Linked DNA regions of Homo sapiens: regions 1, 2 and 3 are each linked to region 4. Evidence: fine-mapped expression QTL. A gene starts in region 4. Each other region holds a variant in brackets. All regions are shown on one strand. Distances are between the middles of the regions.

Region 1 (8,106 bases), 260 kb before region 4:
TATCCCCCACTCCACCAAAGCAAAGTCACTGGGTCAACAGGAACCTAAGTTCACAGAGGTTCTCCTAAATGCCAGGGCCTGGTTCACTGATGGTCTGATGAAGTGGAAGCCTCATGGTGTCCACAGGGCTGCTGTGGCTGTTCACCCTCAGAAACAGCTGCGCAGAACAGAAAATTGATGAGTAACTCTGCTCAGTAGGCCCTGAGCCAATACTCCTCTTGGTAACCCTTGTTATATTTTTACTGACTCTTGGGGTGTTGCCAATGGCCTAGGTGTTCGGTCTGACACTTAGAAAACCTCAACTGGCAGATTAAAGACACCCATCTTTGGGGTCATGAACTATGGAAATAAGTTTTGGCTGTGATTGCTCTGTCTGGGTCACACATGTAGATGTCCATGGTTGAAGCCTGTTCTCTGATTAGACCAACGGAAATAAGGCTGTTGAGGGAGCCTGCACTAGCCATATTGCTACTGGGATCCATCATTATGCCGGACATGGCAACACATCCACCACCATGGACTGGGCACAATGGAAAATACTATTTGTGTATGTGTGTGGGGGGGTTTTGCTTGTTTTTTTGAGATGGAGTTTCACTCTGTCGCCCAGGCTGGAGTGCAGTGGCACCATCTCGGCTCACCACAACCTCCGCCTCCCAGGTTCAAATGATTCTCCTGCCTCAGCCTCCCAAGTAGCTGGGATTACAGGCACGCACAACCATGCCTAGTTAATTTTTGTATTTTTAGTAGAGACAGCGTTTCACCATGTTGGCCAGGCTGGTCTCGAACTCCTGACCTCAAGTGATCCACCCACCTTGGCTTTCCAAAATGCTGGGATTACAGGCATGAGCCACCGCACCCAGCTGGAAAGGACTATTTCTGATGCAGACGCTACCACCACATACCAGGCTGTGATTCCTACCAAAGGTTGGCCCATTTCTCTTGCATAGGAGGAGGTCATCTTGCACAGGGCGTGGCCTCAGCCTACTCATGGCAGATCAACTCCATTAGACCTTTGACCTCTTGGGGCTATTGGTGGTGCCTTACCACTGTTGACACTTTTTCAGGTTATTGGATTGTTGCAGTCCTATCAACCAGCTCTGGGCATACCACTGCAACCCCTGAAACTAATCTGTGTCATGTTTTGGCTCTCTGGACCATCTGCAGTGTGACAATGGTGCACCTTTTATCATAAAAGCCACTCAACAATAGTGGTATTCAAAAGATCTTCCACACTCCTGCCATCATGAGATTCTGGCATTGTTGAGTATTGGAATGGCTTCCTCAAAAACTGGGCCGGGTGCGGTGGCTCATGCCTGTAATCTCAGCACTTTGGGAGGCCGAGGCAGGCAGATCACCTGAGGTTGGGAGTTCGAGACCAGCCTGAGCAACGTGGAGAAACCCCATCTCTACTAAAAATACAAACATTAGCTGGGCATGGTGGCGGGTGCCTGTAATCCCAGCTACTCTGAAGGCTGAGGCAGGAGAATCGCTTGAACATGGGAGGCGGAGGTTGCAGTGACCCGAGATCACGCCACTGCACTCCAGCCTGGGTGACAGAGCAAGAGTCCGTCTCAAAAAAAAAAAAAAAAAAAAATCAACTCAAGGTCTCTGACTCTACTTTTCTCCCTCCTTCCTGGTCCACACACTTTCATAAAGCATTTTGTTTTGTTTTTGTTTTTCAAGACAGAGTCTCGCTCTGTCGCCCAGGCTGGAGTGCAGTGGTGCGATCTTGGCTCTGCCTCTCGAGTTCAAGCCATTCTCCTGCCTCAGCCTCCCAAGTAGCTTGGATTACAGGCACACGCCACCATGTCCAGCTAATTTTTGTATTTTTAGTAGAGACAGGGTTTCCCCATGTTGGCCATGCTAGTCTTGAACTCCAGACCTCAAGAGATCCACCCGCCTCAGCCTCCCAAAGTGCTGGGATTAAAGATGTGAGCTACTGCACCCCACTTTTTCTTTTTCTAAGTAGAGATGGGGTCTTGCCATGTTGACCAAGTTGGTCTCGAACTCCTGGCCTCAAGCAGTCCTCCCATCTCAGCCTCCCAAAGTGCTGGGATTTCAGGTATGAGCCAATGCGCCTGGCCCTATTAAAACATTTTGGTCACCAAATGCAGCTGTCTTTAAAAAGGCTACTTCCTAGCAAGGTGTGTCTGAATGAAGAGGTGTAGGAAGGTTATAAAGAAATATTTTTAAAATTTGGGATTCTGATCAGACTCTTCCTGGGCGTGTTGCTTGCTTGCTTTCCCCTGGCAGCAATCCCAGGCCAGCCTGGTGGGCACACCTCCTAGATGGCAGTCCAACTGTAAGGGGGTCTAGGGGCTCAAACCTGATTGTGTTTCAGCCACCTGGATTCTCTTGTTGGACTGACATGGTCTTAGAGCATAAGAATAATGACCACTTGGGCAAGTACGCTGCTCGCTGAGACCCCTTAGGGTGGCACATACAGGACAAAGTGGGGAACATAATGGGTCCCCACGCATTTTGTAAACATGCCCTTGTTCCTCTTGGACCTGACTCTTCGAATCAAAAAGTCTAGGTGCACAAAGGGGATAACTGGAAAAGGAGGTGGCTGGTACTGGTCAGTCCAGTCACCTCTTTTTCCTTAAAGAAGTGACTATAGGTATTGAAATGAGACACCGATTTGGGAGGGGGAGCAGCAATTCTGGCACCTAGACAGAAAATACTTTGGATTCCAGGAGATAAAGAGGGGGAGGCATTTATGATCTTTGTCCTTCATAATTGCCCCTGAAGACTTCCTTATGAACATAAAAAAGATCTGTGCAGCTCTCCCAAGCTTTTGCAAGCACCTCAAATTTAACTGACTGCAAAGCTGGGCATAGCGGCTCCTGCCTGTAATCCCAGCTACTTGGGAAGTTGCAGGGGAGGATCGCTTGAGGCAAGGAATTCAAGGCTGCAGGGAGCTGTGATGGCACCACTGCACTCCAGCCTGGGCAAGACTGAGAACCTGTCTCAAATAAAACAAATTTAACGACTGTGGGTTCTGCCTTGCCCCAACAACAGATGGCTTTGGCCACCATTTGGTTTGCTCACCATTCCCATTAACCTTACCAGAAGTCCACTGGAAAGAGCAGGGGATGTCCCTGGCTCCTGCACCTTCCATGAAAATCACCTGTGATACCATCAGTTGTCGTTCCCATCCCTATTCCCATAGACTCCACTCAGCCATTCTGTGGAGAGAACGAGTGCCACCTTGCTAGTGGTATGGACAAATGGGATAGATTGGACTAACTGCCCTCAGGCTGTCCTTCCAAATACAAGGACTAGACTGAATTATTCAAACTGGGAAGCTACTTGGGAGGCTGAGGCAGGAGAATCACTTGAACCTAGCAGGGAGAGTGCAGTGAGCTGAGATCGCGCCACCGCATTCCAGCCTGGGTGACAAGAGCGAAACTTCAGCTCAAAAAAAAAAAAAAAAAAAA[G/AG]AAAGTAAACTGGGAACCTGAAGCCCCACCAGGTGGCCAGGACCTGTGCTCCAACAAATATAGGTCCCACTTGGGGGACCTCCAACAATTATAAATATTTTCTAGGGGTAACGATATGTGCCCTTGTGACTGTACTTGTGTGGAGGCTAAACATTAACTCATCATCCTCCCCAAAATAGTGTCTTGCCCCTTCAGGGTGGTCAAGAGACCTTCAAGTGTTTAAGCAAATACCACCAATAGATTATGTAGCCCACAGACAACTGTGGAGATTTTTTTTTTTTTTTTTTTTGAGATGGAGTCTTGCTCTGTCATGCAGGCTGGAGTGCAGTGGCGTGATCTCGGCTTACTGCAACCTCTGCTTCCCAGGTTCAAGCGATTCTCCTGCCTCAGCCTCCCAAGGAGCTGGGATTACAGGCGCCTGCCACTACGCCCAGCTAATTTTTTTGTACTTTTGGTAGAGACAGGGTTTCACCATGTTGGCCAGGCTGGTCTTGAACTCCTGACCTCAGGTGATCCACCTGCCTTGGCCTCCCAAAGTGCTAGGATTGCAGGCGTGAGCCATCGCACCCAGCTGACAACTGTGAAGATCTTTCTAAAGTGAGGCTGCCCTTGTTTACTCAGGGGAACTTCTTGGACTGATAATTGACTCATTCCTTATGTGCACTTATTATCCCTATGATGGGAGTCCTCTGATTAGGAAAGGTGATGCAACATTTGTCTCTAACTTTAGTTGGGTGATCAGTGGTACCACCTTGCCCCTGGAAGGCATTCAGGTCAGCGGCAACTCACTGGCCAGGGTGGAGGTTGTATGGATGACAGAGTTGCCCTAGGCTTCCTCCCTGTGAACCACCAGTGGAGATTATGCAATATCTAATATATCCTGCTGTACCTGGATTAATGACTTGGGCTGAGTGGAAAGGTCAATATTTGAGAAAGTCACCTGGCTTTCTTAGGTAGACCTTGATGGTTTATAGGATTTGTTCAACCTGTTGAGTTGAAAACCCTGGGGTCAGCCGGGCGCAGTGGCTCATGCCTGTAATCCCAGCACTTTGGGAGGCCGAGGTGGGTGGATCACGAGGTCAGGAGATCAAGACCATCCTGGCTAACATGGTGAAACCCCATCTCTACTAAAAATACAAAAACAAAATTAGCCGGGTGTGGTGGTGGGTGTCTGTAGTCCCAGCTACTCAGGAGGCTGAGGCAGGAGAATGGTATGAACCCGGGAGGCGGAGCTTGCAGTGAGCCGAAATCGCACCACTGCACTCCAGCCTGGGCGACAGAGTGAGACTCCGTCTCAAAAAAAGAAATAAAGGAAAAAAAGAAAACCCTGGGGTCAGGATTGGGGTTAATATTGCAGGTTGGACTCATTCTGTTGAAATGCTGTTCATTAAATTAAATTCTGTGAGACAAGCTGAACTGATTTGCTCTATGCCTATTGTCAGATTAATCAGTGACTGATAAAATGGCATACCCATAAGAAAATTGCCAGAAGCCAAGACAATGTGGAAATGAGGGGTGGATATTATTGGGAGATAATTGTCCACAGGTCTCTCACATTTCTGTATGTGTCTTGTCAGCTAAAACTATGAAGGCCTTTGTTCTAGACTATCTTTTCAAAGAAGCTGGCATAGCCTTGGAAGATAGACACAGGTGCTTTGCATCTACAGAGCAAAGGACAGGTGTTCTTGTGACCTTGGTGGAGATAATGCCTCCTGTTAGTGCAAAGGGAAGGCATACCAACCATCCAATATAAAAGACGCAAATTCTGTTAGCTCTCTTCCCTCCTCCTTTCCTCAATAAAACCCACTGCATGTGCAGGATTCACTTGGTCCTCTTTGTGTTGCCCTAAGGGAACTGGGCTTGGGAAATGGCTGTAAGAAAATGCTGGTACTCTGGCTACTGCTATTGCTGTAATAAACTGTCCTTTGTGTCTGACCCAAGAGTGTCTTGTCTGGTTGGGTGCAGTGACTCACGCCTGTAATCCTAGCACTTTGGGAGGCCAAGGTGGGTGGATCACCTGAGGACAGGAGTTTGAGACCAGCTTGGCCAACATGGTGAAATCCTGTCTCTACTAAAAATACAAAAATTAGCCGGGTGTGGTGGCAGGAGCCTGTAATTCCAGCTACTCAGGAGGCTGAAGCAGGAGAATCATTTGAACCCAGGAGGCAGAGGTTGCAGTGAGCTGAGATTGCACCACTGCACTTCAGCCTGGGCAACAGAGCGAGGCTCCATCTCAAAAAAAAAAAAGTACATCTTCTATGAGCATCTGTGAAACTACTGCAGTAGGCTAACCTAGCTTGCAAATAGAGTAAAATCTCTGACTATTCAGTTTTTGATCTGATGTTTGTGCTTTTTAATATTTCTTCATGACTCAATCTTGGTAGGTTTTGTTTTTAGGACTTTGCCTATTCATTCATTCACTCATTCATTCATTTATTTATTTTCGAGACAGAATCTCACTCTGTGTCGCCCAAGCTGGAGTGCAGTGGCACAATCTTGGCTCACTGCAACGTCTGTTTCTCGGGTTCAAGTGATTCTCGTGCCTCAGCCTCCCAAGTAGCTGGGAGTACAGGCGCACGCCACCACACCCAGCTAATTTTTGTATTTTTAGTGAGACAGGGTTTCACCATGTTGGCCAGGTTGGTCTTGAACTCCTGACCTCAAGTGATCCACCGGTCTCGGCCTCCCAAAGTGCTGGGATTACAGATTTGAGCCACCATGCCCAGCTGGAATTTGCCCATTTAATCTAGGCTATCCAGTTTGTTTCCATACAACTGTCTGTAGTACTTTATAACCCTTTTTACTTCTGTAGAATTGGTAGTAGTGTCCCGATTTTCATTTCTCCTTTTAGTAATTTGACTCTTTTTCTTACTCAATCTAGCTAAAGGTTGTCAATTTTGTTGATCTTTTTGACGAAGCAACTTTTGATTTTGTTGACTTTCTCTTTTTTTCTTTTTCTATTCTCTAGCTCTGTTATCTTCCTTCTAGCTCTGTTCTTATTGGCTTCCTTCTGTTAGCTCTTTCATTTGCTCTTTTTTTGTGCCTTAATGTGTAAATAATGTGTACAGTTCAGTTGGTTTTGTTTGTTTGTTTTTTTTTTTTTAGAGACAGGATCTTGCTCTGTTGCTCAAGCTAGAGTGCAGTGGTGCCATCATAGCTCACTTAGCTCACTGCAGCCTCAAACTCCTGGGCTCAAGCAATCCTCTCACCTCAGCCTCTGGAATAGCTGGGACTATAGGTGTGCACCACCATCCCTGGCTAATTTTTAAATTTTTTGTAGAGGGGCCAGGCAATTCTCCCACCTCAGCCTCCTAAAGTGCTGGAATTATGGGTGGGAACCACCATGCCTAGACTCTTCTTTTTAAATGTAAGCATTTATAGCTATAAATTTCTTTCAGTACTGCTTTTGCTGTATCCCACAGGTTTCGGTGTGTTTTTGTTTCATGTGTCTCAAGATATCTAACTTCCCTTATGATTTCTTTTTTGATCCATTGGTTGTTTAAAAGTGTGTTGTTGGTCAGGAAGGGTGGCTGATGCCTGTAATCTCAGCACTTTGGGAGGTTGAGGCGGGCGGATCACTTGAGACCAGGAGTTCAAAACCAGCCTGGCCAACACGGCAAAACCCTGTCTCTACTAAAAATACAAAAATTAGCCAGGCATGGTGGCATGTGCCTGTAGTCCCAGCTATTTGGGAGGGTGAGGTACGAGAATCACTTGAACCTGGGAGGCGGAGATTGCAGTGAGCCACAGTTGTGTCAGAACAAGACTCTGTCTCAGAAAACAAAAAGTGTGTTAATTTTTTTTTTTTTTTTTTTGAGATGGAGTCTTGCTCTGTCTCCCAGGCTGGAGTGCAGTGGGGCAATCTTGGCTCACTGAAAGCTCCATCTCCCAGGTTCACATTCTCCTGCCTCAGCCTCCCGAGTAGCTGGGACTACGGGCACCTGCCACCACACCTGGCTAATTTTTTGTATTTTTAGTAGAGATGGGGTTTCACTGTGTGAGCCAGGATGGTCTCAATCTCCTGACCTTGGGATCCACCTGCCTCGGCCTCCCAAAGTGCTGGGATTACAGGCGTGAGCCACCGCACCCGGCCATTGTTTAATTTTTAAAACTTTCAACTACTGATTTCTAGTTTTGTTCCATTGTGATGGGAAAATACACTTTTATGATTTTAATCTTTAAGTTTACTGGGAATTTTTTGTGGTCTAATACGTGGTCTGGTTTATATTTAATAATGCCTTAGCCCTTTTTTTCCTATTAATTTTTTTTAAATTTTATAGAGACAAGGTCTATGTTGTCCAGGCTGGTCTTCAACTCCTGAGCTCAAGTGATCCCCCTGTCTCAGCCTCCCAAAGTGCTGGGATTACAGATGTGAGCCACTGTGCACAGCCTCCTTTTTTTCTTTTGGGCACACTGAAGTTCACCTACTCCACCCCAGATTCCGGCAATAAAGCTATAGCCTGGCAGGAAGGTGGCCTTCCAGAACTGAGAATTTCTAGGGAGAAATTCTTGAGCCCAGCCACCTGTTATCTTACCGGTGAGAAAACTGAGGGGTCAGAAGGCTTCATCCAAGATTGCACAGGGGCCCACAGGCCTGCAGGCCATGTACACTGAACCACTGCAATTTCTTGTCTGAGAGACTGCCCTGTAGCATCAGCAATGATCA
Region 2 (8,106 bases), 120 kb before region 4:
ATGGTGAAACTCTGTCTCAACTAAAAATACAAAAATTAGCTGGGCGTGGTGGCAGACGCCTGTAATCCCAGCTACTCAGGAGGCTGATGCAGGAGAATCGCTTGAACCCGGGAAGCAGAGGTTGCAGTGAGCCAATGCACTCCAGCCTGGGTGACAGAGTGAGACCCTGTCTCAAAAACAAAAAACAACAACAAAAAAAAAAAACCACAGAAAGTTCTTTGAGGGCAAAGGTCATACTCTAGACTGCATTCTGTTCCTCCTTGTATTTAACTACCTCTCTGGTTGTGCACAACAAGTGTCAAATATGTATTTCATGACTGGTTTAGAGCATTGAAAGAAAAATTTCCACAAGTTTAGATGCCTAAAGGAGAGAGCTAGCATTGCAAAGATGCATCCGCTGACAGTTCCCTGCAGGAGCTATAAACCCAAAGAATCACTCTGTCACTTGACACCCAAGGCCAAGAGCAGAATCTTGCCTTACTTGATAACTTGAGGTCTAACATCTAGCCAAAGAAGATCAAAGCCTTTTTTTAATCCGTATTTTCTCTGGGCCAGGCTTGGTGGCTCACACCTGTAATCCCAGCACTTTGAGAGGCCAAGGGGGTTCTCAAACTATAGACTGCTTGAGGCCAAGAGTTCGAGACCAGCCTGGCCAACATGGTGAAACCCTGTCTCTATTAAAAATGCAAAAAAATTAGCCAGACGTGGTGGTGCATGCCTGTTGATCCCAGCTTCTTGGGAGGCTGAGGCACGAGAATTGCTTGAAACTGGGAGGCAGAGGTTCCAGTGAGCTGATATCACGCCACTGCACTCCAGCCTGGGAGACAGAGCAAGATTCTGTCTGAAAAAGAGAAAAAAAAATTATTTTCTCTGAAGAGTATTGAGATAAAAAGTGTGGATCCCCAAATCCTTTCCTTTGCAATCCATGAAAATGTCTCTTAAACAAATCTGCTCTTCTTCCTCTGTCTTTTCTGGAGCAGCTGTCATTGACCCTGATGAAATATCTCTTCCTTGGAGAAGACATGTCCTCTTCCTTTCCCCTCAGTCCCTCTCTGGTATTATGGGGCATCTTGTATGTGTCAGTGTGACCAGGCTGTTTTCAAGGTGCTCTTAAATCCTTCACTCTATCACATGCAACCTTCCCAACTTAAGTCCACAGGCCAAAAAGTTCACCTCAATCCATACCTCACATCGTATTGGGAAATGAACTCAAAATGAAGTACAGACCAAAATGTATAAAAAATTATACTTTCAGGAGAAAATCGTTGTGATCTTGGGTTATGCAAACATTTTTTATTTACAACACAAACACATGTATGCTTCATAAAAGAAAAAATGTATAAATTGCATGTTATTAAAATTAAGAATTTCTGGCCAGGCGCTGTGGCTCATGCCTGTAATCTTAGTACTTTGGGAGGCTGAGGCAGGCAGATCACTTGAGCCCAGGAGTTTGATACCAGCCTGGGCAACATGATGAAACCCTATCTACAAAAACACAAAAGTTAGCCAGGTGTGGTTGTGCATGCCTGTAGTCTCAGCTACTTTGGAGGCTGAGGTGGGAGGGTCGATTGAGCCCAGGAGTTCAAGGCTGCAGTGAGCTATGATTGCACCACTGCACTCCAGCCTGGGTGACAGAGTGAGACCCTGTCTCAAAAAATCCCTCAAAACAAAAAATACAAAGAAGATATACGGTGGCAAATAAGCATGTGGAAAGATGCTTAACACCATTAGTTATCAGGCAACTGCAAAATTAAAACCAGGAAACAGCACTACACGTTCCGAATGTCTAGAGGCTGACCACATGGTCTTGGCAAGGATATGAAGGACTAGAATTCTCCTTCACTGCTGGTGGTAAAGTGACAGGGTAGAGCCAGTCTGGAAGACAGTTGGGCAGCTTCTGAAAATGTTCAACCTATACCTACCACATGATCCAGCAGCTAGTCCACTTTTCAGATGTCCTTATGCATATGCAATGGACTGAATATTCCTGTTTCCCCAAATTCTTATGTTGAAATCCTAATCCCCAATGTGATAATATAGGGAGGTGGGGTTCTTTGGGAAGTAATGCGGTCATGAGGGTGGAGTCCCCATGAACGGGATTAGTGTGCTTTTAAAAGGGACCCCAGACAGCTCTCTCATTCTCTTTATGTCTACCATGTGAAGACACAAGATGGCAGTCTGCAACCTGGAAGATGCCCTCACAAGAATCCCACCATGCTGGCATCCTGATCTCAGACTTCCAGCCTCTAGGCCTGTGAGAAATAAATTTCTGTTGTTTATAAGCCACCCAGGCTATGGTACTTTGTTACAGTAGTCCAAACTGACTAAGACACCATATGAACACCTGCACGTGAACGTTCATAGGAGTTTTGCTTACAATAAGCAATAACTGGAAACAACCCAAATGTCCATCAGCAGCTGAATGGCTTAATAATTGTGGTAAACCCAAAAAATGGACTAACACTCAGGGAAAAAAAGGAAATGAGCTACGGTTACACACAATGACATGAATGAATCTCAATGTGCTAAGTGAAAGGAGCCAGAACTCCCCTAAAATTGTACACACTATGATTCTATTTATATAAAACTATAACAAATACAAACAATATACAGCAACAGCAGATCAGTGGCTGTGTGGGGATGGGAAATGTGGGGGAGAAGCAGGATGACGGCAGTACAAAGGGGCACGAGGAAATGTTCATGGTGATGGTTTGTCTATCATGTGGTGATAGCTTTCACAGGTGTATATATGTGACATATATGTATATGTATGTCAAAAGTTATCAAGTTGTAAACTTTATACGCAATTTATTATGTCAACTATACCTCAATGCAACTATTAAAAAAAAGGAAGCCCAAGGCCACAAACACATTTAGGTACCACACAGGCTCTCTCTGTTTTAGAGCTTTTTAACTGAATGTAGTACAGGTATAAACCATGGCAGAACTGGATACAGTCCAGGCACAGTCCAAGGGACCCTGGTCAAAAGCTGATGTCTGATGGAAGATATCCTGGGTGGACGCTAACTGGCAGAAAGTCATCTTGTGTGTTCCAGGGTATAAGCTAAATCTTAGGTGAATCACTAGAAAGTCCTGCAGCTGCAAACACACCTGGCTTACATCATGTAGCATTCTTCCCTACACCACCACTTAATCTCACCCTCATATTGCCTCATCTACCCAGATTCCCTCTCATTTGTGAGGCAACATTAAAAAAGCATCATAAGGTTCTGTCAGGTCACTGTCACATTATTAGCTTCTCTAATTACTTAAGTAAGAGATAACAGTCTCTGTGGCAGATTAAATTTTCCAAAAATGACCACAGCAGTATTTCTGGCCCCACATCTTCTTCAGAAGCCTCCTATGCCCCATCAAAAGGTGGCGCCTATTTCCCTTCCCCTTGTAACTGCCTTGACAAACAGTATGGTAGAAGAGATGCTGCATGGCTTCCAAGACTGTGTCATCAAAGGTGGGGTGGCTTATGCCTGTCTCTCCCTCTCGACAACTGTCCTTGGAATGTGGCCACCACATTTTGAGGAAGCGCAGACCAAATATTGGAGAGGCTACATAGAAGTGCTCTGGCCACAGGTCTAGTGAAAGTCTCCGCCAACAGCCACCAGACCTGTAAGGGAGGGAGCCATCAGCTAGTTCCACCTCTCCAGTGGCACTGAGCTGAGTAGAGCGGAGATGAGATGAGATGAGATATCCCCACTAAGCCCCACCCAAACTGTAAACTCAGGATATAAATAGACGTCATTATGTTAAGCCAT[T/G]AAGTTTTGGGTGGTGTTTATAGATAACCAGCCTCTTTTCTACTGAATCTAAAGAGTGCATTCAGAAAGGAAACTAGTTTCTCTCTCTCCCGCCCTATGTTGTCTAATGGCTAATTACCCTTCCCATAATCATTTATCATGAGGCAGCAACAGGGCATCTTTACAAATAACCTGCTTCTCAAATGGAGAGGTCACCATAAATTGCCAGAATGACCTCAGGCTAAACTCATTTGTGAAAATCCAGAGCAATCATGTATCTAATGAAATCAACCTGTTGAACTCCAACTTGTCTGTGGAGGCCACATCCTTATGTTGTCATCCCATCCAAAGTGGATGAAGCACAAGAAAACAATGATTTCTCATGATGCAAGGAAGTCAAGAACTGTGCCTGTTATTTGAGATGATACATAAAGATTATTTGACCCAGAGAATTTAATGATTCTGCTTTTAGCAAAATAATTAGGCAGCTCTTGAAAATGTTACTTATCTGATTTCTGTTTCTCAGCATTACTCGTAATAAAAATACCTACTTACTGGAAACTTACTGAAGAGTCTGGGACACTGCCGTGGAGGCTGGACAGCTCAGTGGAAAGAGCCTGGGGCTGGGAGCTTGGAGAGCCAATTGTATGGTCTTAGGCAAGCATGGCACCTTTCTGATTTGCAGATGTGAAATGGAAGCCCTGGGTTTGTGATTTCTAGGGGCTGTCTCAAGTCTGACTTCCTCTAACTTCTGAGAATGGAATGTGGGTGCTGATTCACATGAAGTATTTCACATTTTATCTAAGGAAATGCATCCTGAGACAATTATCTTAAAGCTAAACAAGAGCATTGGCAAACAAACCATTTTATTACATTCGGCAGGTTTTCTCCATGTCATTAGTGGAAGTTAAATGGAAAAAGAATGCAAGAAAAAGGAACAAAACCTTGAGCTAAAGGGAAGACAACCCTGTAGAGTTCCATTCAAACTGCTTAGGTCTGCCCACCGCCAGTAGCCCATCTAGTTGGTGAAGTAACAACAGGTACATCCAAGCTACTGCTGTTGCTGCCAACAGACCATGCCTCCGCCAGGGCACCATTCCTAATTCTCTTTCCAAATCCAAATGTACCGGTCCTGAATGCAGCTCTGAAAAATGCTCACAGTGAGGGGAGTGAAATGAGCATTTAAGGACTGGTGCTGTATACAAGGCCTCCACTCCTTCCCCTGTTTGGGAGGATCTAATTTGTGTCATCCAGGGGAGAAAAGCCTTGACTGAGTAGTCTCATCTACCACACACAAAACACACTGATCAAACTCATTTATGGTAATGGCACTAAGCAACTGATTTTTAAAATTACAGCCCTGAAATTTCTGGAAATAGATGTTAATAGTAGCTATCAAGATCATGTTTAAACAGAATGCAGTAAGTACACTGTGATTCTGGGAAAACTTTGTTTCCCAGCTGCTATGTTTGACATTAAAAGGAATGCCCTGAAAACAGGAAAGAGTTCTTTCACTTCACTGGGACAGAAAAGCCATCAATTAACCTCTGCTGTGTGCAGTAAAGAACACAGGCCCGGCCGGGCGCAGTGGCTCACACCCGTAATCCCAGCACTTTGGGAGGCCAAGGCGGGCGGATCCCAAGATCAGGAGATTGAGACCATCCTTGCTAACAGGGTGAAACCCCGTCTCTACTAAAAATACAAAAAATTAGCTGGGTTTGCTGGCATGCGCCTGTAATCCCAGCTACTCAGGAGGCTGAGGCAGGAGAATCGCTTGAACCCAGGAGGCAGAGGTTGCAGTGAGCCGAGATCGCTCCACTTCAGTCTGGGCGACAGAGTGAGACTCTGACTCAAAAAAAAAAAAAAAAAAAAAAAAAAGAAAAGAAAAAAAAAAAAAAGGAACACAGGCCCAAGAAGAGCCCTGAGATACAAGCTGTTTCTATTCCCCGGTGGCTCCAAGAAATGTGAAGCTCTTGGCCAACCGCTGAGCCTTCGGGATGAAGATACCTTGTCATCAGGACAGAAAATGATTAGACTCCAGGAGTTTTTATTGCTTCACTGTGGAGAACTTATGAGTAGACACAGTCCACATAAAGAATGGGTGGGACGCAAGGCTGGCCATTCTTGTTCCCCTTTGTTCAAGTATTTTTAACCCCTGGAACACACTGATATTTACAAACAATAAGATCTTTCTGTATACTTAGTTTCCATGCAAGTGACAATGTAAAATGAAAAGATTTAGACTTTCAACCTAGATTTGATTCAGATCAAAACTCTTATCTACTGCCAGCACCTTTTTTTATTTTTTAACTCTGGGAAGTAATTCCTGTGACCTAAGATTCCAGTTATAGAAGAGGAAATTAAACCAACTAAGCTCTGCTTGGACTATGAGGAATTCCTAATGCATTATTTTAACAGCATTCTGTCTACTGGAAGAACTCCCAGCTTTCTCTAACCTTTCTCATGCCACACACCCCTAGCCCAGTCCTAACTCTGATCATGGAGAGAGGACGCTAGGAAGGTGGAAGGGTGAGAAAAGGAAGGATCAGGGGAAGAGCGGCATTCTGGAATGTTTTCCAGAGAGGAAACTAAAGTCCTCTTTTTTTTTTTTTTTTAAGGGTTGGGGTAGGGGATGAGTAGAAATAACATTCCCCTTCAAGGCTGGACACATAAGGGAAAGAGGGATGACATGTGAAAAGGAAGCGTCTCTATTCCCTTGTCTTTTCCAGTATGTAGTGTCTAGGAAGAATCAGAAGAAACTTGTGCTTTTGGGCCCAATCTCTTTAGGTTAGGAAAGTCACCTTTATATAAGAATCTACTCAACCCACAGGCTTTGAAATGGTGGCAATGAGTAGTGGCCTAAGGGGGTGTGACTAACACCAAGTGCTAATCTCATGCCTGGGTTGTGCAGGTAGCAAGTACCATACTTAATACTTCATACAATTTATAAAGAGCACTTCCTTTTTCTCCTATTTGTCTCCTATTTCTATTATTACAAAGGAAGCTGTGAAGGACTGAGCTATTTTTATCTGTTCACTAGTTCTCACTCTATTGATTCTTCAATCTATGGGGACACACAATTCTGGGAGAATAAAGGTAAGTACTTCTTTTCCTTGCTTAGGAAAGAGGGTAGGGAAAATAAAAAAGAATCCCAAAATGACGCATGCTAGGAAACTTCTGGCTGCAGTAGAGCAAAGAGGTAGATAGATCCTTTCCCTAAAAAAAAAAAAAACCCGAAAGCCCCCACAAACACAAATATAAACCTGGACAAAAGTGTCACAAATTACCATTTTAGGGCAAATCAACCAAAGGCAAACAACAAACTAAGAAGTATTATTGGCCAGACACAGTGGCTCACATCTGTAATCAGCACTTTGGGGGGTTGAGGTGGGTGGATCACCTGAGGTCAAGTTTGAGACCAGCCTGGCCAACATGGTGAAACCCTGTCCCTACTAAAAATACAAACATTAGCCGGCCATGGTGGCATGCACCTGTAATCCCAGCTACTTGGGAGGCTGAAGCAGGAGAATCGCTTGAACCCAGGAGGCAGAGGTTGCAGTAAGCCAAGATCGCACCATTGGCTCTCCAGCCTGGGTGACAAGAGTGAAACTCTGTCTCCAAAAAAAAAAAAAAAAAAAAAATCAGTTATAGAAAGGAGTGAAGTACTAACACATGCCACGTGGAAGAACCTCAAAAATATGGTACATGAAAGATGCCAGTGACAAAAGACCACAAATGATTCCAGTTACATGAAATGTCTGGGACAGGCAAACCCATGGTGGCTGCCTAGGGCTGTGAGGTGGTAAGAATATTCTAAAATTCATTGTGATGATGATTATACAACTCTGTGCATATACTAAAAACCACTGAACTGTCCAACTTGGTGAGTTGTATGGTACGGGAGTTGTAAAAAAAATAACACAACTAAATCTTAGAAACTCAACTCTCAGAAGTTAACTTTTATAAGATATCTGTGGTAGGCCCATAAGCTGTTGATGTCTTAATCTCTGGAACTTATGAACATGTTTATTTACATGGCAAGAGAGTTTGCAGATGTGATTAAACTAGTTCAACCATTGTGGAAGTCAGTTTGGCGATTCCTCAGGGATCTAGAACTAGAAATACCATTTGACCCAGCCATCCCATTACTGGATATATACCCAAAGGATTATAAATCATGCTGCTATAAAGACACATGCACACGTATGTTTATTGCGGCACTATTCACAATAGCAAAGACTTGGAACCAAGCCAAATGTCCAACAATGATAGACTGGATTAAGAAAATGTGGCACATATACACCATGGAATACTATGCAGCCATAAAAAATGATGAGTTCATGTCCTTTGTAGGGAC
Region 3 (8,106 bases), 110 kb before region 4:
AGAACCAAAACTGCTGGCTCCAAAGGATGGGCATGATCATCCATTTATAGCTAGACAGGCAAAGGGCACTGGCACTTCTCATACGATTCTTGACAAATTAAGAACACTATTAGATATGGCTTTCAGTTTTAAAAGATTATGCATTTCAGACCAGGTGCAGTGGCTCACGCCTTTAATCCCAGCACTTTGGGAGGCTGAGGAGGGTGGGTCACTTGAGGTCAGGAGTTCAAGACCAGCCTGGCAAACATGGTGAAACCCCATCTCCACTAAGAATACAAAAATTAGCTGGGCGGGGTGGCAGGTGCCTGTAATCCCAGTTACTCTGGAGGCTGAGGCAGGAGAAGGAGATGGAGATGCATCCCAGGAGATGGAGGCTGCAGTGAGCCGAGATTGTGCCATTGCACTCCAGCCTGGGTGACAGAGTGAGATTCTGTCTCAAAAACAAAAACAAAAGATTATGCATTTCAGGCTGTCCAATGTTAACTTACAGATCTTGCAATGAAAGAACCAGTATCCTCTTTGCTTCTAAAGGGAAGGAACAGATAGATATCTGTCTCACAGGAAACAAAAGCCAACTGCCTCCCACAAGCCATACATATGTATCATCAAAGAAGTGTCGATAGGAAATGAGAAAGCAGAGAATTGGGTTTGTAGCCAAGACTGTCAAGTGTACAAAAAGAATTTTCCTAATGTATGATTAACCATCCTATATCATATTTCCCCCTGCATTTTAAGTACCAAGTAAATGGAAAAAACTTCAAATTATTAGTTTATTTGTATGTATATATATTTCTCTCTATATATTAAGGTAAACATAGAAGAATCCAAGAGGCATGGAATAACTGACTTAATGTTTGAATTATCTCCATTTAATCAACCTGATACATGGGAAAGTTCTATAATCAAGAGGAAGTAAATTTTTTTTTTTCTTTTTTCTCGGAGACAGGGTCTTGCTCTGTTGTCCAGGCAGGAGTGCAGTGGTACAATAATGGCTCACAGCAGCCTCAACTTCCCGGCTCAAGTAATCCTCCTGCCTCAGCCCTCCAAGTAGCTGGGCTGAGGTAGGAGGATTGCTACCATGCCTGGCTATTTTTTTTTTTAAATTTTAATAGAGAGAAGATCTCACTATGTTGCCAACGCTGGTCTCAAACTCCTAATCACAAGCGATCCTTCAAGGGGGAAGTAATTTATAATGTTCTAAAATTACTTAATTTAAGTTATTGTCTAGCAAAATTTAAAACTTAGGTTATATGAAGACACCTAACAGCATGGAAGAAAATACAGACACACCTCAGATGGTACTTCATCTTCTTGTGCTTCATGGATCCTGCGTTTTTTACAAATTGAGGGTTTGTGGCAATCCTGTATCAAACAAGTCTGTTGGTATCATCTTGCCAACAGTATGTGCTCACTTCAATGTCTCTGGGTCAAGTTTGGTAATTCTTGCAATATTTTAAACTTTCTCATTATTATTATAACTGTTATGGTGATGTATGACCAGTGGTCTTTGATGTTACTATAGTAATTGTTTTGGGGTGCCATGAACTGTGCCCATATAAGACAGTGAACTTAATCTATAAAGTTCTGTGTGTTCTGAATGATCCACTGACTAGCCATTCTGTCTCTCTCCCTCTCCTTGGGCTTCCCTATTCCTTGAGATATAAAAATATTAAAATTAGGCCAATTAATAACCCTACAATGGCCTCTAAGTGTTCAAGTAAAAGGAAGACTCGCACATCTTTCACTTTAAATCAAAATCTAGAAATGCTTAAGCTAATTGAGAAAAGCACGGCAAAAGCCAAAAGGCTGAAAGTTAGGCCACTTGTGCCAGTTAGCCAAGTTGTGAATGCAGAGGAAAAGTTCTTGAAGGAAATTAAAAGTGCTATACCACTGAATATACAAATGATAAGATAGCAAAACAGCCTTATTGCTGATATGGAGAAAGTTTCCGTGCTTTGAATAAAAGATCAAACCAGCTACAACATTCCCTTAAGCCAAAGCTGAATCCACAGCAAGGCCCTAACTCTCTTCAATTCTATAAATGCTGAGATTGGTGACGAAGCTGCAGAAGAAAAGTTTGAAGCTAGCAGAGGTTGGCTCATGATATTGAAGGAAAGAAGCCATCTCCATAACATATAAGTGCAAGGCGAAGCTAGCAAGTGCTGATACAGAAGCTGCAGCAAGTTACCCAGAAGATCTAGCTAAGATCACTGATGAAGGTGGCCACACTAAACAACAATTTTCAATGTGGATAAAACAGCCTTCTATTAAAAGAAGATGACATCTAGGACTTTCATAGCTACAGAGGAGAAGTCAATGCCTGGCTTCAAAGCTTCAAAGGACAGGCTGTCTCTCTCATTAGGGCCTAAGCAGCTGGTGACTTTAAGTGGAAGCCAATGCTCATTTACCAGTCCCACAATCCTAGGGCCCTTAAGAGTTATGCTACATCTACTCTGCCTGTGCTCTATAAATGGAACAACAAAGCCTGGATGACAGCACATCTGTTGACAGCATAGTTATCGAACATTTTAAGCCCACTGTTCCTTTCAAAATATTACTGCTCATTGACAATGTAACCAGTCAGCCAGGAGCTCTAATGATGATACGAGGAGATTAATGTTGTTTTCCTGTCTGCTAATACAACATCCATTCTGCAGCTCATAGATCAAGGAGTGGGCTTAAAATGTTCAATAAACTATGGGGTCTTGCCTCTTCAAGCCAAGATCATGGACTTTAACCAAATGACAAAGGGGAAACAAATGAAGCAGCTTAAAGAGAAGTAACAAGATCAATTTCAAAAACACTTTGGTAGTAGGCTAGAAGATGGACAAGAAGATGAGAAAACTACATACGTCCATGTAAAAATTTGTTGTACACAAATGTCTACAACAAACCAGGCATGGTGGGATGTGCCTGTAGATCCAGCTACTTGGGAGGCTGAGGTGGGAAGATCACTTGAGACCAGCCTGGGAAACATAGTGAGACCTCATGTCGAAAAAAAAAAGTTCTTAACAGTGACATTTATAATAACCCCCCCAAAAGTGTAAGCAACACAAACACCATCTTGAACAGAAGAATGGATAAATATGTGGCATATCCATACAATGGAATATTGTTTGGCCATAAAAAGGAATGAGGTACTAGTATATGCTACAGCATGGATGAACCTTAAAAACATGATGCTAAGTGAAAGAAGCCAGTCACAGAGGACCACATATTGTGTGATTCCATTTATAGGAAATGTCCATAATAAAGAAATCTATAGGACAGAAAGTAGATTAGTGGTTGCCTATAGTAAATAGAGAATGAATGCTAATGGGTATAGGATTTCTTTATGGAGTGGTAAAAATAGCCTAAAACTGGTTGTGGTAATGGTTATACAACTCTGAATACACTTAAAAAAAAAACAAAAACCCACTGAAATGTACATTTTAAGTGGCTGAATTGTATCTTGTGTGGCATATCTCAATAAAAAAAGTTCTTTCTTAAGAAAAAAAAAAAACTAGGTGATTGTGTAATTTTCACTTATGCTTGAGGTTTCAGTTCTACAACCAACTTGAAACTGCCAGTATTCACGTTCCTGCCGTTCAACAAAACTTGAGACTTTTCAGGCCTGAGTGTGGAAGTCTTTTTAGGTTGAAGTTTTATGTTCGGCTTCTTTCCCTTAGCATAAAATATTCAAAGTTCATCCAAGTTGCAGCATGTATCAGAACTTCTAATCCATGAACAAGGTATGTCTTTCCATTTATTTAGATTTTAATTTCTTTCAGCAATGTTTTGTATTTTTCAGTGTATTAGACTTGTGCCTCCTTGGTTAAATTTATTCCTAAATAGTTTATTCTTTTTGATGCTGCTATAAATGGAATGTTTTAATTTACTGTTACTATATGTAAATGCAAGTGAGTTTTGTATACTGATCTTGCATCTTCAACTTTTCTGGATTTACTAGTTCCAACAGTTTTTATGTGAATTCTTAAAGGTTTTCTAGATATAAGCTGGATGTGATGGCCTACACCTGTAGTCCCAGCTACTCACGATGTTGGAAGTGGGAGGACCACTTGAGCCCAGAAGTCTGAACCTAGACTGGGCAACATAGTGAGACCCTATCTCTTAAAAAAATCTAGACATAAATCACATCATCTGCAAATAGAGATCATTTTACTTTTTTTCCTATCTGGATGCCTTTTCTTTCCTTTTTTCTTGTCTGTCTTAGCTAGAACTTGCAGAAAAATGTTGAATAGAAATGGTGATAAACGACATTCTTTCTTGTTCCTGATCTTAAGGGGAAAGCTTTCAGTCTTCACCATTAAGTATAATGTTAAAACTGTGGGTTTTTTTTGTTTTTTTTGTTTGTTTGTTTGTTT[G/T]TTTTGAGACAGAGTCTCACTCTGTCACCCAGGCTGGAGTGCAGTGGTGTGTTATCAGCTCACTGCAACCTCCACCTCGCAGGTTCAAGTCATTCTCATGTCTCAGCCTCCCAAGTAGCTGGCATTACAGGTGTGTGCCACTACACCTGGCTAGTTTTTGTATTAGTAAAGATGGAGTTTTGCATGTTGCCTAGGCTGGTCTTGAACTCCTGGCCTCAACTGATCACCCGCCTTGGCCTCCCAAAGTACTGGGATTACAGGCATAAGCCACTGTGCCCAGCCAACTGTGGGTTTTCATAGGTACCCTTTATTAGATTGAGAAAATTACCTTTTATTCCTAGTTTTTAAAATCATAAATGGCTGCTGGATTTTACCAAATGCTTTTACAGTGTCTAGTGAGATGATCATGCGGTTTTTTCCCCTTTATTCTAATAATATGGTATTACAGTATTAATTCATTTTCATATGTTGAACCAACCTTGCATTGCTGGGATAAAGAACACTTGGTCAGGGTGTATAATCCTCTTTAATATACTGCTGGATATTGTCATTATTTTGTCAAGGGCTTTTACAGTTTTCTTTTTTTGTAATATCTTTTTCCGTTTTTGGTATGAGAGTAATGATGGCCTCACAGAATGAGTTAGGAAGTAATATTTTCTTTGATTTTTGGAAGAGTTTGAGAAGTATTGCTATTAATTCCTCTTTTAAAATTTGGAAGAATTAACCAGTAAAGTAATCTGGTCCTGGGCTTCTCTTTGCTGGAAGTATTTTGATTACTAACTCAATCTCATTAGTTGTTATTTGTCTCTCCAGATGTTCTTGCTTCTTGAGTCCATTTTGATAGTTAATGTTTCTAGGAATTTGTCCATATCATCTAAGTTATCCAATTTTTGGCATTCATTGTTCACAGTATTCCATTTTAATCCTTTTTATTTCTTAAGGTCATTAGTAACGTCCCTTTATTCCTGATTTTGGTAACTTTAGTCTTCGTTTTCTTTTTATCTATCTACTTAGAGGTTTGTCAATTTGTTTATCTTTTCAAAGAACCCATTTTTTTTTCATTGATCTTCTCTATTGTTTTTCTATTTTCTATTTTATTTATTTTGGCTCTAATCTTTATTTCCTTCCTTCTGCTTATTTTGGGTTTAGCTTATCTTTTTTCTACTTCCTTTTTTTTTAAATTATACTTTAAGTTTTAGGGTACATGTGCACAAGGTGCAGGTTAGTTACATATGTATACATGTGCCATGTTGGTGTGCTGCACCCATCAACTCGTCATTTAACATTAGGTATATCTCCTAATGCTATCCCTCCCCCCTCCCCCCACCCCACAACAGGCCCCTGTGTGTTATGTTCCCCTTCCTGTGTCCATGTGTTCTCATTGTTCAATTCCCACCTATGAGTGAGAACATGCAGTGTTTGTTTTTTTTTGTCCTTGCGATAGTTTGCTGAGAATGATGGTTTCCAGCTTCATCCGTGTCCCTACAAAGGACATGAACTCATCATTTTTTATGGCTGCATAGTATTCCATGGTGTATATGTGCCACATTTTCTTAATCCAGTCTATCATTCTTGGGCATTTGGCTTGGTTCCAAGTCTTTGCTATTGTGAATAGTGCTGCAATAAACATACGTGTGCATGTGTCTTTATAGCAGCATGATTTATAATCCTTTGGGTATATACCCAGTAATGGGATGGCTGGGTCAAATGGTATTTCTAGTTCTAGATCCCTGAGGAATCGCCACACTGACTTTCACAATGGTTGAACTAGTTTACAGTCCCACCAACAGTGTAAAAGTGTTCCTATTTCTCCACATCCTCTCCAGCACCTGTTGTTTCCTGACTTTTTAATGATCGCCATTCTAACTGGTGTGAGATGGTATCTCATTGTGGTTTTGATTTGCATTTCTCTGATGGCCAGTGATAATGAGCATTTTTTCATGTGTCTTTTGGCTGCATAAATGTCTTCTTTTGAGAAGTGTCTGTTCATATCCTTCGCCCACTTGTTGATGGGATTTTTTTTTTCTTGTATATTTGTTTGAGTTCATTGTAGATTCTGGATATTAGCCCTTTGTCACATGAGTAGATTGCGAAAATTTTCTCCCATTCTGTAGGTTGCCTGTTCACTCTGATGGTAGTTTCTTTTGCTGTGCAGAAGCTCTTTAGTTTAATTAGATCCCATTTGTCAATTTTCGCTTTTGTTGCCATTGCTTTTGGTGTTTTAAACATGAAGTCCTTGCCCATGCCTATGTCCTGAATGGTATTGCCTAGGTTTTCTTCTAGGGTTTTTATGGTTTTAGGTCTAACATTTAAGTCTTTAATCCATCTTGAATTAATTTTTGCATAAAGTGTAAGGAAGGGATGCAGTTTCAGCTTTCTACATATGGCTAGCCAGTTTTCCCAGCACCATTTATTAAATAGGGAATCCTTTCCCCATTTCTTGTTTTTGTCAGGTCTGTCAAAGATCAGATGGTTGTAGATATGCAGCATTATTTCTGAGGGCTCTGTTCTGTTCCATTGGTCTATATCTCTATTTTGGTACCAGTACCATGCTGTTTTGGTTACTGTAGCCTTGTAGTATAGTTTGAAGTCAGGTAGTGTGATGCCTCCAGCTTTGTTCTTTTGGCTTAGGATTGACTTGGCAATGCAGGCCTTTTTTGGTTCCATATGAACTTTAAAGTAGTTTTTTCCAATTCTGTGAAGAAAGTCATTGGTAGCTTGATGGGGATGGCACTGAATCTATAAATTACCTTGGGCAGTATGGCCATTTTCATGATATTGATTCTTCCTACCCATGAGCATGGAACGTTCTTCCATTTGTTTGTATCCTCTTTTATTTCATTGAGCAGTGGTTTGTAGTTCTCCTTGAAGAGGTCCTTCATGTCCCTTATAAGTTGCATTCCTAGGTATTTTATTCTCTTTGAAGCAATTGTGAATGGGAGTTCACTCATGATTTGGCTCTCAGTTTGTCTGATATTGGTGTATAAGAATGCTTGTGATTTTTGCACATTGATTTTGTATCCTGAGACTTTGCTGAAGTTGCCTATCAGCTTAAGGAGATTCTGGGCTGAGATGATGGAGTTTTCTAGATATATAATCATGTCATCTGCAAACAGGGACAATTTGACTTCCTCTTTTCCTAACTGAATACTCTTTATTTCTTTCTCCTGCCTGACTGCCCTGGCCAGAACTTCCAACACTATGTTGAATAGGAGTGGTGAGAGAGGGCATCCCTGTCTTGTGCCAGTTTTCAAAGGGAACGCTTCCAGTTTTTACCCATTCAGTATGATATTGGCTGTGGGTTTGCCATAGATAGCTCTTATTATTTTGAGATACGTCCCATCAATACCTAATTTATTGAGAGTTTTTAGCATGAAGTGTTGTTGAATTTTGTCAAAGGCCTTTTCTGCATCTATTGAGATAATCATATGGTTTTTGTCACTGGTTCTGTTTATATGCTGGATTACATTTATTGATTTGCGTATGTTGAACCAGCCTTGCATCCCAGGGATGAAGCCCACATGATCATGGTGGATCCAGCAGCAGCTGGATTTCGTTTGCCAGTATTTTATTGAGGATTTTTGCATCAATGTTCATCAGGGATATTGATCTAAAATTCTCTTTTTTTGTTGTGTCTCTGCCAGGCTTTGGTATCAGGATGATGCTGGCCTCATAAAACGAGTTAGGGAGTATTCCCTCTTTTTCTATTGATTGGAATAATTTCGGAATGAATGGTACCAGC
Region 4 (8,106 bases):
CCAGCACTGTACCAGCACCCCAGCAGAGTCAACAACTTTCTGTCAAGCCACACACTTACGGTCTCATTGTCCAGTGGAGGCCGCAGACGAGACATAGTGTGCCAAATCCCAAATGCACAGGGTGCCAGACAAGTCTGCAGGAGGCAGGAGGACTAGGGAAGCCTTCCAGGCAAGGTGATGCCTGAGCTGAGTTGTTTTTCTTTTGAGTTTGGAACATTAATTTAATCGGAGGAAAACAAGGGACATGAAAAGGGCAAGGAAATAAGAAAATGAGCTGAGTTTTGAAGGCAATGATCAGATGAAGTGAGAGAAGAATATTCCAGCAGAGGGAGACAAGGAGACTGCAGAGATTTCAAGGGGCCAAGAGCTGTTCAGTGCAGCTCAGTGAAGCACCTAAACAGAGGTAGGGGAAGGAGAACAGGGGTCAAAGCCCAGTATTGAAGTGTTCTGGATACCAAGCTAAGGAGACCTTATTACGAAGGTACTGGGGCTGCTGAAGGGTTTAAATGGGAAAGTGATTGTGAACAGATTAATAGTTTGGAAAGATACAGGCAGAAGTAAACCTCTGGATTTAACCAAAAAATAAAGGACAGAACCACAATGAAGATGTTTGGAAAAGATCAGGAAAAACACTGTTAAAAGATATTCACTCTCTTCTCTTATTTACAGATTTCCTTTATGGAATACCAAATTATTCTTTGAAAATAGAGAACTCAGAAGTGGCTGAGAGCAGTCAGTCAGTCTTCAGAATGTAAAAACTACTATTCTGAAGAAGTAGATATTACATTATTAATTTCATTTCAAGATGCTTTAAAAACGTGCCTTTTGATACACTGCAGGTTTTTTAAGAGTATGTCACAATAACTCTAAATCTTACTTGAAATTAATAGAAGAGCACTATAAATTTTAAAGGCTTCACAGACACAGGGATCATCTGTTATGTTCACTTTGGAACAGATCATAATTGTCCCTCCCTCTCAACATACCCAAAATACGTTGTTTAAGGCTACTTTCCTAATGGTCATGTTATTTCACAGTAAAAGACTGAGGTCACAATGATTTCTGAGCTGACAGAAAACCCCATGGGGGTTCTTTACCTCGCATCTAGTCTATTCAGTACTAACAATTCCAACCACCAGAAAGAATTTCCCTGCCTAGGCTTATTTGTTGGCACAACACAAAAAAATCTCCTGGGGCTGGGTGAGGTGGCTAGTGCCTGTAATCTCAGCACTTTGGGAGGCCAAGGCAGGCGGATCACCTGAGGTCGGGAGTTCCAGACCAGCCTGACCAACATGGAAAAACCCTGTCTCTACTAAAAATACAAAATCAGCCAGGGGTGGTGGCACATGCCTGTAATCCCACCTACTTGGGAGGCTGAGGCAGGAGAATCGCTTGAACCTGGGAGGCGTAGGTTGCGGTGAGCGGAGATCATGCCATTAGACTCCAGCCTGGGCAACAAGAGCGAAACTGTCTCAAAAACAATTATATCTAATAAAAAAGATCTATTTAACAATGATCAGAATAGGAACATCTTTAATGCCATGCAAATTTAACAGCTTTCTCAGTGGATTTCTCAGTAGACTGTGACCAATGATCTCAAAATAAACTCATATTTACTCTTAAGAAATACTCTATATTTGAATCTTCTTAACAGCAAAAGCCCCAGGAACTTTTTCCTGAACTCCCTAACAGCAGCAGGAAAACAAGAGATTCTCGGCTCTCTTTATTTTTAAAAATCACAATAACTACCCTTGCATTTACTATTTACGTTTACCATATATCACCATTTACTATCACCATCATTTCATAAAAGATGCTTTATTTTAACACCAAGAAAGCAGAACTTTTTTAAAGAAAAGATAGTCCTTCAATTGAATAAATTGAATTGTATAAAAGACTCCCAATATTGTCCTTTTTTTCTTATTTCTGTTCCCTTACTGAGCTGAGCAGTTTGCATAATACCACACACAGGTTAGTCATGTGATTTAAATATGTATATGATAGTAATTTTGATACTATCACTTAAGTCATTCGAAATATCAGATGCACTGTGTGTCAAGTCAGTTATAGAGAACCACTGCTTCAGAGAAATCACATCTGAGGAAGAAACACCGCAGATACACCTCCTAAAAGTTCACCTTTGAAACAGAAATTTTGATACAAACTTCACTTTAACTACAACTGTAATTGTAATTATTACAGTTATTCTCCACTCACTAGATACTGTACTTGACACTCACGTTATTTAGTTGGCTACCAACGTGCACCTGTGATAAAGCTTTCCTATGGCACAACATTCACTTTCTTACTGAAAATGTCAAGAAAACCCCTACACACCTGCAACCATTAGGAAGCATTCTCCAGCTATCAAAAAAGTCACTGAATCGGCTAAGCGACTCTGTGTGGTATACACTAAATCAAAGGGGAAAAGGTGTTTTTTTGGAGGAAAAAAATACTGGATTAGCCATTTATTGAAACAATTTTACCCACAACAATACTTCTCCTTTCACTATATACCCTTCTATGTTGGTTTGGTTATTTTACAACATACATGTATATTGTAATAGCTGTTTTTTTTTTTTTTTGAGACAGAGTCTCACTCTGTCGCCCAGGCTGGAGTGCAGTGGCGAGACCTCGGTTCACTGCACCCTCTGCCTCCTAAGCAATTCTCCTGTCTCGGCCTCCCGAGCCGCTGGGATCACAAGCGTGTGCCACCACGCCCGACTAATTTTTATATTTTTTGTAGAGACGGGGTTTCACCATGTTGGCCAGGCTGGTATCGAACTCCTAACCTCAGGTGATCCACCCGCCTCGGCCTCCCAAACTACTGTGATTACAGGCGTGAGCCAGGGAGCTCGGCCTTGTTATATCTGGTTTTTGTTTTTTTGAGACGGAGCCTCGCTCTGTAGCCCAGGCTGGGGTACAGTGGCGCGAACTCGGCTCACTGCAACCTCCGCCTCCCGGGTTCAAGCGATTCTCCTGCCTCACCCTCCTGAGTAGCTGGGATTACAGGCGCGCGCTTTTTGTATTTTTAGTAGAGACAGGATTTCACCATGTTGGTCAGGCTGGTCTTGAACTCCTGACTTCAGGTGATCCGCCCGCCCCGGCCTCCCAAAGTGCTGGGATTACAGGCATGAGGCACCGCGCCTGGCCTGGTTTTTAATTACGAAGAAAAAATTACTATAGTCCCTTTGGTATCACCTACATTGGCAAAATTGCAGTCCCCCTCCACTCCCTGAAGCCACCAGAAATGACTGCTGTTGTCTACAAAGCCTACAGCTCTGATTTCATCTCAAGATGTGTCCTACTGGGTGACAGCAAATGCCATTTTTTAAAGGCTTGTATCTGTTATAAGCTTGGGAAATATTATCATGGCTTAAGAGGCTCTTTTGACAAAAGAAAACACTGTTCCCTGAAATCACCTGGGCTGTTCACGGGAATCTTTTCCTCGCCCTTCTGGTACTTGGACAAATGATCAAGGATATCAACAAATCAAGGTTCCCCGCATTTGAATGATCACAGAATTTTTGCGTGTTCTGTAAATGGGCTAAAACTACTGGAAACTGATTTCTTTTCGTCATCTCCAGGGCAGCTTGCCCAACGTGCCGCGACTATGATGTCTTAGACTTAACTACTTAAGGTAATACAATTACCAAATTCCTGGAAACGCAAAATTTCCTCAGACAGGTACCGGATTATTCACATCCAACCTGATGCAATTAACCACGTCTCAAGAAAAAAGGACGTTCCGTCCGCCTCGGGCGCCGGCCACAGCAGAAGCAGCACCGGCAGCAGGCCCGGGGTCCGCCGCCTGTGGCCCCTGCTCCTCCGCTCTGCGCCCTCGGGGCCACTGAACAACGCTGTCCCCGCCCCAGGCAAGGGACCCGGGCGATGGGGCGGCAGCCCCAGCCTCTCCCGGAGCGGCGGAAAGGCAAGCACGAGGGTCGCACCCGGCCTGTCTGCACACAGTCAAGCCGCAAGCGGGGTCCCAGAACCAGCTGAACCCCAACACCAACGGACGAAGGCCAGTGGGTCTCGGCGGCGAAGCCTGCGGGTTGTTCCAGAAGCCCCGAAGCCCAGAACGAGGACGGCGCGGGAAGGGAAAGGCGCAGGCGCGGGACACACTGGAGGGGCCCAGGAGCAGAGACGGCGCAGGCGCTGGGCCTGCCGGGGTCTGCGGGGACGCCCGGGCGCGGCAGCGCGGGCGGCGCTGAGGCGATAAACCAACCCGCCAGCGAACACTGCGGGAACCCGGCTGCTGCTCTTACCGCGCTGCACCGCATCGCTCCCTCGCAATCTCCTGGTTTGGGCTGGGCGGTGAGCTCACCCGGTGGCTCAGCCGAGACCCGTTGAGTCCGGCCTCAGGAAAGCAGCCTACCCCGCAGCGCCGCTTGCCGGGCCGCCCGGCCTCCCTCGCGGGCCCCGCCCTTGGCCAGCCCCTTCGCGCCCAGCAGGGCTGCGGCCGTCTGCGCAGGCGTCGTGGAGGCCCCGCCTACATTCCTTCACTGCGCAGGCGCCGCCGTCCCCCACCACCACCCCCTCCCCTTCCCCCATCTCCGGCTCGCGTCCGTCTCGGCACTGGGTCGCGCAGCCGCTCTGCCACTTGGCCGGTCAAGAAAGTAGCCGGCCAGCCGGTGCGCATGCCTCAGGTCTTGGGCTGGAGCCGGGCAAGGCGGGTCCCTTCAGAGGCCCCACTGGGCCCAGCGGAATGATGCTCAGAGTCCGCTAGTCCCAAAAGTTCTCCTCAGCGTGTTTACCGTGTGCCAAGGACTGTGCTATGCATGAGCCAGACAGCAGTGAGGAAAACACAAAGCCCTGTCCTCCTGGCACTCCCGGTACATAAGGGAACAGACAAAAAGAATAAGCGAGCAACATATATGTATATATATATGTATATACATATATATATACGTATATATATATACGTATATATATATGTATATATATACATATATATATACGTATATATATATGTATATATATGTGTATATATATACATATATATATGTATATATATATATATATATATATAAAATATTAAAGAAATTCTGGGGGAGTTCGAGTTCCATCGGCCCCCATCCGGGCCACCCTGCCACCTTAGCGGCTGCTCCTCCCCAGAATGCTGATGCCTAAGAAAAACCGGATTGCCATTTATGAACTCCTTTTTAAAGAGGAAGTCACGGTGGTCAAGAAGGATGTCCACATGCCTAAGCACCTGGAGTTGGCAGACAAGAATGTGCCCGGCCGGGCGCGGTGGCTTAGGCCTGTAATCCCAGCACTTTGGGAGGCCGAGGCGGGCGGATCACGAGGTCAGGAGTTCAAGACCAGCCTGGCCAAGATGGTGAAACCCGTGTCTACTAAAAATACAAAAATATTAGCCAGGCGCGGTGGCAGACACCTGTAATCCCAGCTAGTCGGGAGGCCAAGGCAGGAGAATTGCTTGAACCCAGGGGGCGGAGGTTGCAGTGAGCCGAGATCGCGCCCCTGCACTCCAGCCTGGGCGACAGAGTGAGACTCCTCTCAAAAAAAAAAGAATGTGTGTGCCCAACCTTCCTGTCATGTAGTCCCGAGGCTACTACGTGAAGGAACAGTTTGCCTGGAGACATGTCTACTGGTACCTTACCAATGAGGATATCCAGTATCTCCGTGATTACCTTCATCTGCCCCTGGAGATTGTGCCTGCCACCCTACGCCGCAGCCGTCCAGGGACTGGCAGGCCTCGGTCTAAAGGTCTGGAGGGTGAGCGACCTGCAAGACTCACAAGAGGAGAAGCCGACAGAGATACCTACAGAAGGAGTGCTGTGCCCCCTGGTGCCGACAAGAAAGCCGAGGCTGGGGCTGGGTCAGCAACCGAATTCCAGTTTAGAGGCAAATTTGGTCGTGGACACCGTCAGCCACCTCAGTAGAATTGGAGAGGATTATTTTGCATTGAATAAACTTACAGCCAAAAAGACTTAAAAAAAAAAAAAGAAAAAAATTGTATTATGTCGCAAATGAACCTGTTGCAATGATCATACAGGTTTTTTCCTTTGATAGTTTGTACTACTTTAATAGTTTTTTCTTTTATTACATAATCTTAGTTTCCTAGGAAAACCCCAACTTGGTCGTGATACATGTTTAATCCATTGCTGGATTATTTGCTAATATTTTATTTAGCGTTTTTGCATATATGTCCATAAGAAGTTAGTCCATACTTTTGCCTCCTTGTACTATTTATGTCTGGTTTGGTTTTAAGCCTATACTAAATTCACAGTGAGTTGGGGAGAATTCCATTTGCTTCTTTTTCTGAAAGATTATCTAGGCTGGGCACTGTGGCCTACGCTTGTAAAACTAGCATTTTGGGAGGCCGAGGTGGGCGGATTACCGGAGGTCGGGAGTTCAAGAACAGCCTGGCCAACATGGTGAAACCCCATCTCTACTAAAAATACAAAAAATTAGCCGGGCACACCTGTAATCCCAGCTACTCTGGAGGCTGAGGCAGGATAATTGCTTGAACCTGGGAGGCAGAGGTTGCAGTGAGCAGAGATCACGCCACTGCACTCCAGTCTGGGCTACAAAGCGAGACTTTCTGTCAAAAATAAATAATTAATTTTTAAAAATTATGTAGAAGATAAAAACTTTATGTTCTTTTTAATGTTTGCTGTCCATAAAATCATCTGGGCCAGGTACTTTTCTTTGGTTTTGTTTTTTTGTGAGATTTTTGAGGGGATGGGATACAGATTTTTTTTTTTTTTTTTTTTTTTTTGAGACGGAGTCTCGCTCTGTCGCCCAGGCTGGAGTGCAGTGGCACCATCTCGGCTCACTGCCAGCTCCGCCTCCCGGGTTCACGCCATTCTCCTGCCTCAGGCTCCCGAGTAGCTGGGACTACAGGCACCCACCACCAGGCCCGGCTAATTTTTTGTATTTTTAGTAGAGATGGGGTTTCACCATGTTAGCCAGGATGGTCTCGATCTTCTGACCTTGTGATCCGCCCACCTCGTCCTCCCAAAGTGCTGGGATTACAGGCTTGAGCCACTGCGCCCGGCCGGGATACAGATTTTAAAATAAACATTCAATTCCTTTGATGGTTCTAGATCTAGACAAACTTTTCTGTTTCTCCCTACTTCGTTTTTATGAAGTTATATTTTTCTTTTGAGACAGAATTTCTCTGTTGCAGTCACGTGATCTTGGCTCACTGCAACCTCCTCCTCCCAGGTTCAAGTGATTCTCCCGCCTCAGCCTCCCAAGTAGCTAGGGTTACAAGCATGTGCCACCACGCCCAGCTAATTTTTGTATTTTTGGTAGAGTTGGGGTTTTGCTATGCTGGCCAGGCTGGTCTCGAACTCCTGAGATCAGGTGATCCACCAACCTCGGCCTCCCAAAGTGCTGGGATTACAAGCACCCCACCTGGCCTGAAGTTGTATTTTTCTATAAAACTGCCTGTTTTGATATTTTAAAAAATCACTGGCATAACGTGGTTTATGTAATGTCCTTATGATTTTTGTCTTAATACTGTTTATTTATTTTATATATTTATTTAGAGATTGAGTCTTGCTCTATTGCCCAGGCTGGAGTGCAGTGGCCTGATCTTGGCTCACTGCGACCTCCGCCTCTCAGGTTCAAGCAATTCTCGTGCCTCAGCCTCCTGAGTAACTGGGATTATAGGCACCCACCACCACACCCAGCTAATTTTTGTGTGTGTGTTTTGTTGTTGCTGTTGTTGTTGTTTCTTTTTGTGAGACAAAGTTTTGCTGTTGTTGCCCAGGCTGGAGTATAATGGCGCAATCTCGGCTCGGCACAACCTCCATCTCCCGGGTTCAAGCAATTCTCCTGCCTCAGCCTCCTGAGTGGCTGGGATGACAGGCATGCGCCACTACACCAGGCTAATTTTATATTCTTAGTAGAGATGGGGTTTCTCCATGTTGGTCATGCTGTTCTCGAACTCCTGACCTCAGGTGATCCGCCCGCCTCAGCCTCCCAAAGTGCTGGGATTACCAGGGTGAGCCACCACACCTGGCCATTTTCATATTTTTAGTAGAGACGGAGTTTCACCATGTTGGCCAGGCTGGTCTCAAACTCCTGACCTCAAGTGATCTGTCAGTCTCGACCTCCCAAAGTGCCAGGATT

Direction of the effects. Positions count from the first base shown, and alleles are read on the strand shown. Sizes are in standard deviations (SD) of each study's normalised expression. Not every link is listed here.
In carriers of allele G in region 1, the expression in monocytes after LPS of the gene that starts at base 4,421 in region 4 tends to be lower than with AG alone (large effect, 0.89 SD a copy in Fairfax 2014).

What was found.
Region 1: its variant is fine-mapped to the expression of SPECC1L in monocytes after LPS (Fairfax 2014, PIP 0.95).
Region 2: its variant is fine-mapped to the expression of SPECC1L in whole blood (INTERVAL, PIP above 0.99).
Region 3: its variant is fine-mapped to the expression of SPECC1L in whole blood (INTERVAL, PIP above 0.99).

The regions. Positions count from the first base shown.
Region 1 is chr22:24,528,418-24,536,523 of GRCh38, reverse strand. No RefSeq gene overlaps it. Among named protein-coding and RNA genes, the nearest start is that of GUCD1, 23 kb to the left of the region's middle. The variant G/AG (reference allele first, on the strand shown) is at 3,441.
Region 2 is chr22:24,388,394-24,396,499 of GRCh38, reverse strand. All of the region lies in intron 14 of SPECC1L (sperm antigen with calponin homology and coiled-coil domains 1 like), which reads right to left. The region is part of intron 15 of SPECC1L-ADORA2A (SPECC1L-ADORA2A readthrough (NMD candidate)); the gene reads right to left. LOC105372960 (a long non-coding RNA gene) reads left to right here. Exons shown (of 2, transcript XR_938082.3): 2 at 2,164-2,286. Among named protein-coding and RNA genes, the nearest start is that of ADORA2A, 35 kb to the left of the region's middle. The variant T/G (reference allele first, on the strand shown) is at 3,771.
Region 3 is chr22:24,372,213-24,380,318 of GRCh38, reverse strand. All of the region lies in intron 14 of SPECC1L (sperm antigen with calponin homology and coiled-coil domains 1 like), which reads right to left. The region is part of intron 15 of SPECC1L-ADORA2A (SPECC1L-ADORA2A readthrough (NMD candidate)); the gene reads right to left. Among named protein-coding and RNA genes, the nearest start is that of ADORA2A, 51 kb to the left of the region's middle. The variant G/T (reference allele first, on the strand shown) is at 4,365.
Region 4 is chr22:24,267,146-24,275,251 of GRCh38, reverse strand. It overlaps SPECC1L (sperm antigen with calponin homology and coiled-coil domains 1 like), which reads right to left and starts at 4,421. Exons shown (of 17, transcript NM_015330.6): 1 at 4,269-4,421. SPECC1L-ADORA2A (SPECC1L-ADORA2A readthrough (NMD candidate)) reads right to left here and starts at 4,435. Exons shown (of 20, transcript NR_103546.1): 1 at 4,269-4,435. It also overlaps the pseudogene RPS10P29. RefSeq lists enhancers at 79-128, 3,963-4,042 and a silencer at 4,103-4,632.